Regions from separate parts of the Homo sapiens genome. Here region 2 is linked to region 1. The links come from fine-mapping of genetic effects on gene expression. Tissue or cell type: whole blood. Region 1 holds a variant in brackets; the other region holds the start of a gene. All regions are shown on one strand. Distances are from middle to middle.

Region 1 (4,238 bases):
ATACCCCATATTCTTTTTCCTGTTCACCGCACTTGGTTCTTATACCCATCATTATTTAAATCAAATATCTAATTTAAACAATCATGTTGAATGCCTGCCAGTATTAACCTAAGGGTCGATGTCTTGGCAGTTGGCTGTGATCATCATTCTTTACCTCAGCCTTTATTTTGCTTCTCTTAAAAATGCAAAGACTAAGCAACGGCATTTGAATATGCCACATTTTAGCAGAGGTTTATAAAAACAAGAGCATTTACAGAGATACTAAGCTACCTAATCACTCGGCCCACCATGAAATGAGGCACTTTTATTCCAGCACAGGTTTTCAGACTCAGCTCCACTGCTGCTGATCAAACAGATCCCACTGCTGTGGAGGATCTCAACTGTGCCCCAGCCACCTCCTGCCTGCAGCTGTGCCTCTATGAGCACTCACGGACCGACACATCATCCACATAATCGCAGGGGAGGATGTAAAGTTCCATCCACCAAGGGAGCCAGGTAAAGCCGGGAAGCCTGAGGAGCGCGCGCTGTGGACCTGGCCTTGCTAACAGGCTCTGGCACTGAGAATGGAGCCTTTCAGAAGCACACAATCTTCCTTGGTGCTGGTCTCCAAGGATTATCCCACATTGTCCTTGAGCTGAGGCTTTTCTATTTTTTGCCAATATAGGGGTAAAGTAATGACCACAGGGAACAAACTGAGCCTGGGAGGAAGGCTCACAGAGGACTAGGGCTTGAAACAGGAGTCCTTCCTAGGCCAGCGTCCAATGGCTGGTGGAAAGGGTCTCTCAACCTATGCACTCATTTCACCTGCTCCCAGCAGGTTCCTGTGTCTCCAAGGTTACTCGTGCTCCCTGCAAAGAGCTGACGCTAACTGAGGCGAGACAGTGGGCTAGGCTCTTGTCCCCTTCCCCAGTGTGGTGGTGGCACTCACAATAGTAGGTCCTCAAGGTAAGTTTGGTCCACAAAAACAGATACCCATAAAAGTGAAATAGCATGAAACACTGCTGCGCAGCCCTTGGGCCATGATTTGATTAACAAGAAATAATCCCATTCGAGGCAGATGGGAACCAGCTCTGATATATACTGGTAATACTGATCGGATACTGTTGTCAAAGAGAAGTAAATGAGGTAATGCACAAAACGAATGCCACACAGTGCCTGGCACAGACTCAATAAATGGAATCGATTGTAAGGAGTATCCACAGATGCTACTAAACAAATTACAGAAAGTGCACGCCTACAAATCTAAATTGTCGGCATATGTTCCTTCATATGAAGACAATGGCGTTCTGCTTCCACTAACAATTCCTAATTCATCCATTTGTTTTGTTCATTTGTTCTCCGCTGATTCACAGGATCCCACCCAGATATTATTATAAAAATGTACAAGTCCAATGAAGACAGAAGTTAGAGAGAATTCTGTCACTCACTCACTCATGTCCACATCAGTATATACTAATGCTCTAACAGTGTAAGCTGTGAGTGTATTTCATTTTTAAAGTCTGTAACCTACTGATTTTATTGCTCCTAACTGTCTCTGCTTGAGTTTGAAAACTGAACATACTGGTTCACTGTGGTGGTTCTTAATCTTTCGGAGAGGAGACTTCTGAGTATCAAGTAACACCTAAGGCCCTTCTCCCCAGTCACAAACGGACGTAAACACAACATTTGGTAGACAACACTGGGGGTCAGGGACTCCTGTGTTATTACAAAGTTAAGCTGTGAGTTTGTACAAGCATTGTGTATCAACAGAAGGAATGTACCTGTGCGACTGCTGAAAAAGAACTCCAACTCCTCAGAAAGCCCAGTCAAGATGCTGCACAGATCATCGGGACATTTCTTCCCGGAAAACTGGTATCGTCAAATTAATTAGCACCTTCTAAGAAAACTGTCCTTTCGTCCATTTGTTTTTTTCCTGATTTCACACCCAGAAAGACTGTAAAAAAAAATTTGTCATATACAGCCCTGAAACTGCTCCCACACAATTACTTTCAGGGCTGTCTGATAATTTAATACCTAAGAAAATGTTAAGAAAAATTCATTCACATAAAATCCTCTTATAACTGTCATGAGTGCTTTGGACCACATAAAGGTAAGACGAGCAAACAGTGAGACGTGTTTGCTTCTGCCCAGGCAAATGGAACAAATCAAATTCCAAGAGTTACCTAATGCACCAACCTATGTCACCACAGGTGTCCTCGTTTGGTTAACAGTGAAACAAGACAGCTTTTAAGAGAGAAGCAGGTTTCTTGCACATGAAGAATTCCTTAGTGCCACGATGTAGCTATTTAGGTGCAGATCCAAACAGGCCCTTTACTCTTAACTAATTTGAAACCCACTTAATTCACTCCACGATGCAAAAGGAAAATATATGGATTTTAAGAGAACTTGTTACACAAGATGGTGAAACTGCTCATTTTTTTTTTTTTTTAGAAGTGTGCCAACCGGCCAGAGAACGGCAGTTACCACAGAATGTATTTTGCTGGTGCCCACCATTACAATGGGATGAACCAAAGGTTGGTGTGCCAGGAATGTTCCTATAATGTTCTCACTTAATGCTCACAGCAACCTTGTAGGGTAGGTAGCTCATATTCCCATTTTATAGACAGAAAAATTAAGGACCAAAACATGGAGAGTAACCCATCCGAAGTCACAATGCAATTAAC[T/G]GGTGCAGCTGGTATGTGAATCTGGTCTCTTAATTCCAAAGCTATGTTCTGGTGTATCACAATAAATTCTGCATGCTGCACATCTCCTAACACTCAAGGTATAGCTGGGTCAGCAACTTTCCCCCTCTCCCCTCCAGCCAACATACACGCACACTCCAGGCTCATTTTAAACAAGCTATCCATTTTCAAAGTACTGATCAATCTGCATCTAATGCAAAAGCAACACTGAAGCCCAAGCAGTATATTCCCACCCACTAAAAAAAATTTTTAGGCAGGTTTTTTTTTTAATGTGCTTAGCATAGAAACTGAAGGTAGGGGGAAGCACAAGAATCATTTGCTATGAAAACAAAGTTCACCAATTCCATGTACTTTCTGACAATCACCCATGAGATTTATAGGATCCTGTCTTTAAAACTTAAAAGGGTCAGACAGAAATTGAGTAAGTATCACTTTTTCTTGATTTAATATTTTCTGCACTCTACTACAACCCCAAATTTTATCTTGGCATACAAACAGTAATTTACATTATCTTCTATCCTGAATTCCTGGATTTATAATAACTAAAAATAGGTATTAAGCTTACCACTCAAATTTGATCTTATCAAACAAGCCCATGACCCACCTAACAAGGGAAGGACACTGTGGATCACACCTTTAGCAATTAACAAAATTCCTAAAATCAAGTAGATTTGGAATCTTAAACCCCTGGTCCAAAAATCCAAGATTGAGACCACTGACAACATATGATATTTATTATTATTATTGATACTTTTTCCTTATTTTCTTGGATATCAAAGGGAAATTATAATTTCAACATTAGTGCTAATCCTACAAAAATTACAGTCCATCGTGTGTAAACAGTCAAGGAGATTGTTCCACATATAAAAGATCAAAACTACAACTATTATCATCATGGTGCTGCCCACAGCGTAAACCTGCTACAGAAGATTAGAAGACTTGGGACCCAGCTATGACCAACATTAACATCGTCATGGCAAAAGCACCAAGACAAGAGGTGGACAGTAGGAACTCTCATTTCTCACAGGCCCTTAGACATTCTGCTTATGGCCAGTAATCTCTTTATTCCAGAGAAGCAGGCTCTGATAATCCCAAACATGAAAGACAAAAATGTAGCCAACAGAACCAGAAAGGCATATCCTACATCTCAAACTGGCAACAGAATGAAAACTGAACCTGAGAGGCCAAATGGTAAAAAGAATAACAAAAGGCTCAGAAACTGCATTGTTGCCCATTCTAAACGGCATTGCAACTTCAAACATTGCACATAATTCCGTCTTGGGGTTCTAAACATGGGTGAACAAACCAGTTTGCCTTCATTTTTCTGGCATGTGGTGTTTCAGGAAATCTACAAAAGACTGCCCCAAGAGGTAGGTTTATAAATACAAGAAAAAAGATTGTTTATCGCTGTAGTTTTCATTTAAAAAAAAAAAAAAAAAGGGTAGGGGAATTTTAGCCTAAGCAATGCTGAATTAGTTTTCTTTTTAACCGGCCAATCCTTTGCTACTCTCCATAACTGGTAACAGACAGCTAATTCACTAAGAGTGAAATTAGTTT
Region 2 (4,238 bases), 61 kb after region 1:
TTAGTGGCATGGATACATGCTCACCGTATCATAAGGCAAGACAGGTTGCAAACAATATACACACTATATTATCAATCCTGTATAAAATGTAAATAAATATATATATATGTGAATGAACTGTAAAATAAGGAAAGAAATACGCATATCCACACCAAGAGAGACAGGAAGATCTGCCAAACGTTAACAATGGTTATCTGAAGAGGGGAAGGTTATGCCCAATTTCTGTTTCTTCTTTGTGCTTTTCTCTACTTTCCAATTTTCTACAGTGAGAATCTTTTGTTATGTTTTGTACTTACAAAATTAATACATTCTTACAGATTTAAACTGTACTGTTTCAGGCCCTGTCCACAAAATAAGGAAAAAACAAACCTGAACATACCAACCTTTCAATTAAAGAAACCACCTTCAGAATCAACAAAAGCAAACATTTACTGAGCAGTATTATCATGTTCTGGCACTTTTCTAAGCACTTAAAATGTATTAACTTATTTCAATCAAACCAAAACAGATGTGTTGAGTAAAAAGAGCCCTGGAATCACAGAAAATGTAAATGAGTTTTAGTTCCACTGTGAATTTTGATTTGTTTCCATAGCTCGAAATGAGGGGGTTTAATAAAAATGATCTTTAAAGGTCATCTCAAGGCTAAACTAAGATTCTACATGTAAAAATTTGGCCAATAAGTGTTAGTCCGGAAGCCTCAAGAGTGATGGGGCAGTTTGGACCATCTCAAAAACACAGAACCCTACTAAAAAAGAACGTATGACAGTGTGTCTCAGTTCCTCCTCCTTAATATATGTAAATTTCCTATCATGTTTTTTTTTAAAAGGCCTACATTTTTCTAATACTTGGACACAACTGATCAAACCGAGGCGAAGTGTGTACCATTGTAAAAGAAATCATTGAAGAGTTCCATTTGTTGTTAAAAGTTTCGGTCACTTTTAATAAACCTGGAGTAAACAAAAACTTAAACATTTTAGTCGAGTTCTGGGGTAAAAATGATTCTTCTAGTGTCTGGTTAAAGGGATCTAAGGACCTACTGGGATTCAGCAAAAGACGTTCCACGTCTCAAATACACCCAAAATCTCAATACAACACTAAAAGAAAAGTGAGGGGCCAGCACGAAATTTCTGTTAGGGGAAATTTCAGCTGCGTAGTTAAGGAAATCAGGACTTCCCGGTTAACTATGGGGTCTTTGCCGCAGCTCACAGCCCGACACAAAGCTACAAGCCCGGAGGGTCGGTGGCTCACGCGTGGATCGAAAGAACCACGAAGGTTTGGGGAATGACACTGACCTGTTAGGTTTACTTCATGTCTCACTTACCACCATCAAAAGAGGTTCATTGATAGCTTTATTAGCAAAATTAGTAACAGAGTTGCACGTCTGTAACACACACACACGCGCGCGTGCGCACACACACACATACACCCGTGGGTCTATGGGAACATTGAGGGAGACAATCTCCAGGTTAAAACCACACAAAAACTATTTGGGAAACACAAAGACGCAAGACACAAAACAAATTTGGAGTGCAAATGTGCAAGACACACTCAGTGGGAACACAAAAGAGAAAAGCACAGCGGCTTGACAATTGGGACGGCGCCCGGCCCCACGTGGGGCCCCAGGTGGCCCCACCGCCGCCCGCACCCGGCCAGTCTCTGCAGCCCGCACGCGTCCCCCGCGGGGCGCGCGGCTCTTCACGGCGACAAACCGAATCCCGAACTTCGCCGCAGGGACCCCACGGCCGACAAGGAGGAGCCCGGCGCCGCCACCCACCCGCGGGGCCACCGACCCGGAGGCCCGCGCCTCGTCCCGGGGCCCCCGGCACGCCCGGGACCTCTGAGGGGGCGCGTCCGCCGACCCGGCCATCCCTGCGGCGCCGGGTCCCCAGCGTGTCGCCGCCGCCGTCGCCGCCGCGCTCCTCGGGGGGAGGGACCAGCGTCCCGGCGCGAGCCCAGAGGCCGCCCACCCGCGCCACTCCTTACCCGCGCCCGCCGCGCCAGCGCCTCAGAGCACCGAGGGCCGCCGCCGCCGCCGCTGTTTCGCCGGCCCCGGCGCCCGCGGCCGCGCCGCCGCCATCTTGACTCCAGTCGGAAGTGACGTCGGGCGGCGAGGCAGTGGCCTGCGGGGCTGGGGGGCTCCGGGACCCCCGGTCTCCCCACGATCCCAGAGCCCGGCCCTTGACCCTGCGCCGTCGCCCAATGGCCACCACCCAGCCGCCCCTCGTAGGTCACCGCGGATCCCATGGCGGCGCCTCGGGAAGGAACCCCGGCGGCTGGCGTCGCGGCAAGTCCGACCGCACCCTAGGGCTAGGATCCTGCGTGGTTCAAAGATTCTCAAAGAATCAAAAAGACTGAAGGAGGTGTTGGGGGGGCATGTCTATCGTTGGAGGTCATTAAATATCTGACAAGTACATAAACGTAGACCTTATACTTCTACGTTTGGATCTATACCAAAAAGATCCAACTCCAGGCAGACAGACGCAGCTGCTGGGTTTATTTGCTGCCCTAGTACCCAGGAGCAGTGACCAACGCTGCCCTGTGCCCGCGATGTTCCAGTGCAGCGCCTCTGAGAGCGCGGTAGTAGTCCTGCCCTTAAGGAGCTTGCTGTTCCCAAGCGGGCAAACAAATGGACTGCAGAGACGACGACTCATAGATGTTCTGATGAAGATGAACTGGGTGGAACTGGAGATGGCTCTTCGACATCCAAGGGTGGAGGCCTAGCACGTGGTTGAAAATGAGTTGAGTCGGGGAGAAGCACAGGCTGGAGATGAGCTGGAAAGTTGGGAGTTGTCGTTATAGATGGTGCCTGGAGCCTTCAGCACTTCAAGATAAAGTAATCCTCTGAGAATGAAGTCAGGAAGAATCCGAATGTGATGGCTACGTTGGCCATCTGCAGAAAGCACCCAGTGGAAAAACAGGATACTAAGGGCAGGTGTGCTTCCAAAAATTATGAACGATCATTTATGTAACAGGTTTAATCTTAAGAAAACGTGTTGGCCGGGCGCAGTGGCTCACGCCTGTAATCCCAGCACTTTGGGAGGCCAAGGCAGGTGGATCACGAGGTCAGGAGATCGAGACCATCCTGGCTAACACGGTGAAACCCCGTCTCTACTAAAACTACAAAAATTTAGCCGGCCGACGTGGCGGGTGCCTGTAGTCCCAGCTACTCCGGAGGCTGAGGCAGGAGAATGGCGTGAACCCAGGAGACGGAGCTTGCAGTGAGCCAAGATCGCCCCACTGCTCGCCAGCCTGGGCGACAGAGACAGACTCCATCTCAAAAAAGAAAGAAAACGTGTTGTATCAACATATATCATGTTATCTTATTGTAAAAGAATGAGGCTAGGCCGGGCGCGGTGGCTCAGCCTGTAATCCCAGCACATTGGGAGGCCGAGGCGGGTGGATCACGAGGTCAGGAGATCGAGACCATCCTGGCTAACACAGTGAAACCCCGTCTCTACTAAAAATACAAAAAATTAGCCAGGCGTGGTGGCGGGCGCCTGTAGTCCCAGCTACTCCGGAGGCTGAGGCAGGAGAATGGCGTGAACCCGGGAGGCGGAGCTGGCAGTGAGCCAAGATGCCCCACTGCTCTCCAGCCTGGGTGACAGAGCGAGACTCAGTATCAAAAAAAAAAAAAAAAAAAAGAATGAGGCTATAGCTGATGATCGAGTCGGTTATAGTAAACAAATGAAGATCACCTCATTAGAGTAAATTTTATTAAGGCCTTGAGAAGTGACAGGGCTTAAGAAAATAAGGAAATAAATCAAACCTCAAGGGTTTGCTTATTTCTTCCGCTATTCAAGGAAAAGAGACCCTAGATCTGGGAGATACCACGTGCCTGTCATCAAAGTAGTATTCTCTGTTGTGGAGCAAAGTCATCAGACTTCTGCACCCCTTACCTAGATTAATACCTTCCAACTGGATCCATGCATCGAAATTATCTGGGGTATCTATGAAGAAAATAGGGAGACCCCACTGTTCCATCCACCATCAAAACACTGACATAGAAATCACCATTTTAAGAGAAAAGCTATGGGCCACCTGGCATTCAATAGAATGCAAAAGGAAAATAAAGGATGTTAAATCAGAAGTGGCACGGTGAACCAGAATGGATACTAGATGGTTGGTTAACAGAGTAGCCAGTAGTTGTCTTTCCGGTTATTAATTCATTAATCCAAAGTGACTGGCTATATTAGTTTCCTGTGGCTGCTGTAACAAATTATCCCAACCCTGACAACAGA

What was found. PIP is the estimated chance that this variant, and not a neighbour inherited with it, causes the effect.
Region 2: it holds the start of PRDM2, and the variant in region 1 is the best candidate, but not a certain one, in a credible set for the expression of PRDM2 in whole blood (TOPMed, PIP 0.73).

Annotation. Positions count from the first base shown.
Region 1 is chr1:13,759,045-13,763,282 of GRCh38, reverse strand. The region is part of intron 6 of PRDM2 (PR/SET domain 2); the gene reads right to left. Among named protein-coding and RNA genes, the nearest start is that of PRDM2, 61 kb to the right of the region's middle. The variant T/G (reference allele first, on the strand shown) is at 2,664.
Region 2 is chr1:13,698,046-13,702,283 of GRCh38, reverse strand. PRDM2 (PR/SET domain 2) reads right to left here and starts at 2,096. Exons shown (of 10, transcript NM_001393986.1): 1 at 1,984-2,096. RefSeq lists a silencer at 1,574-2,343.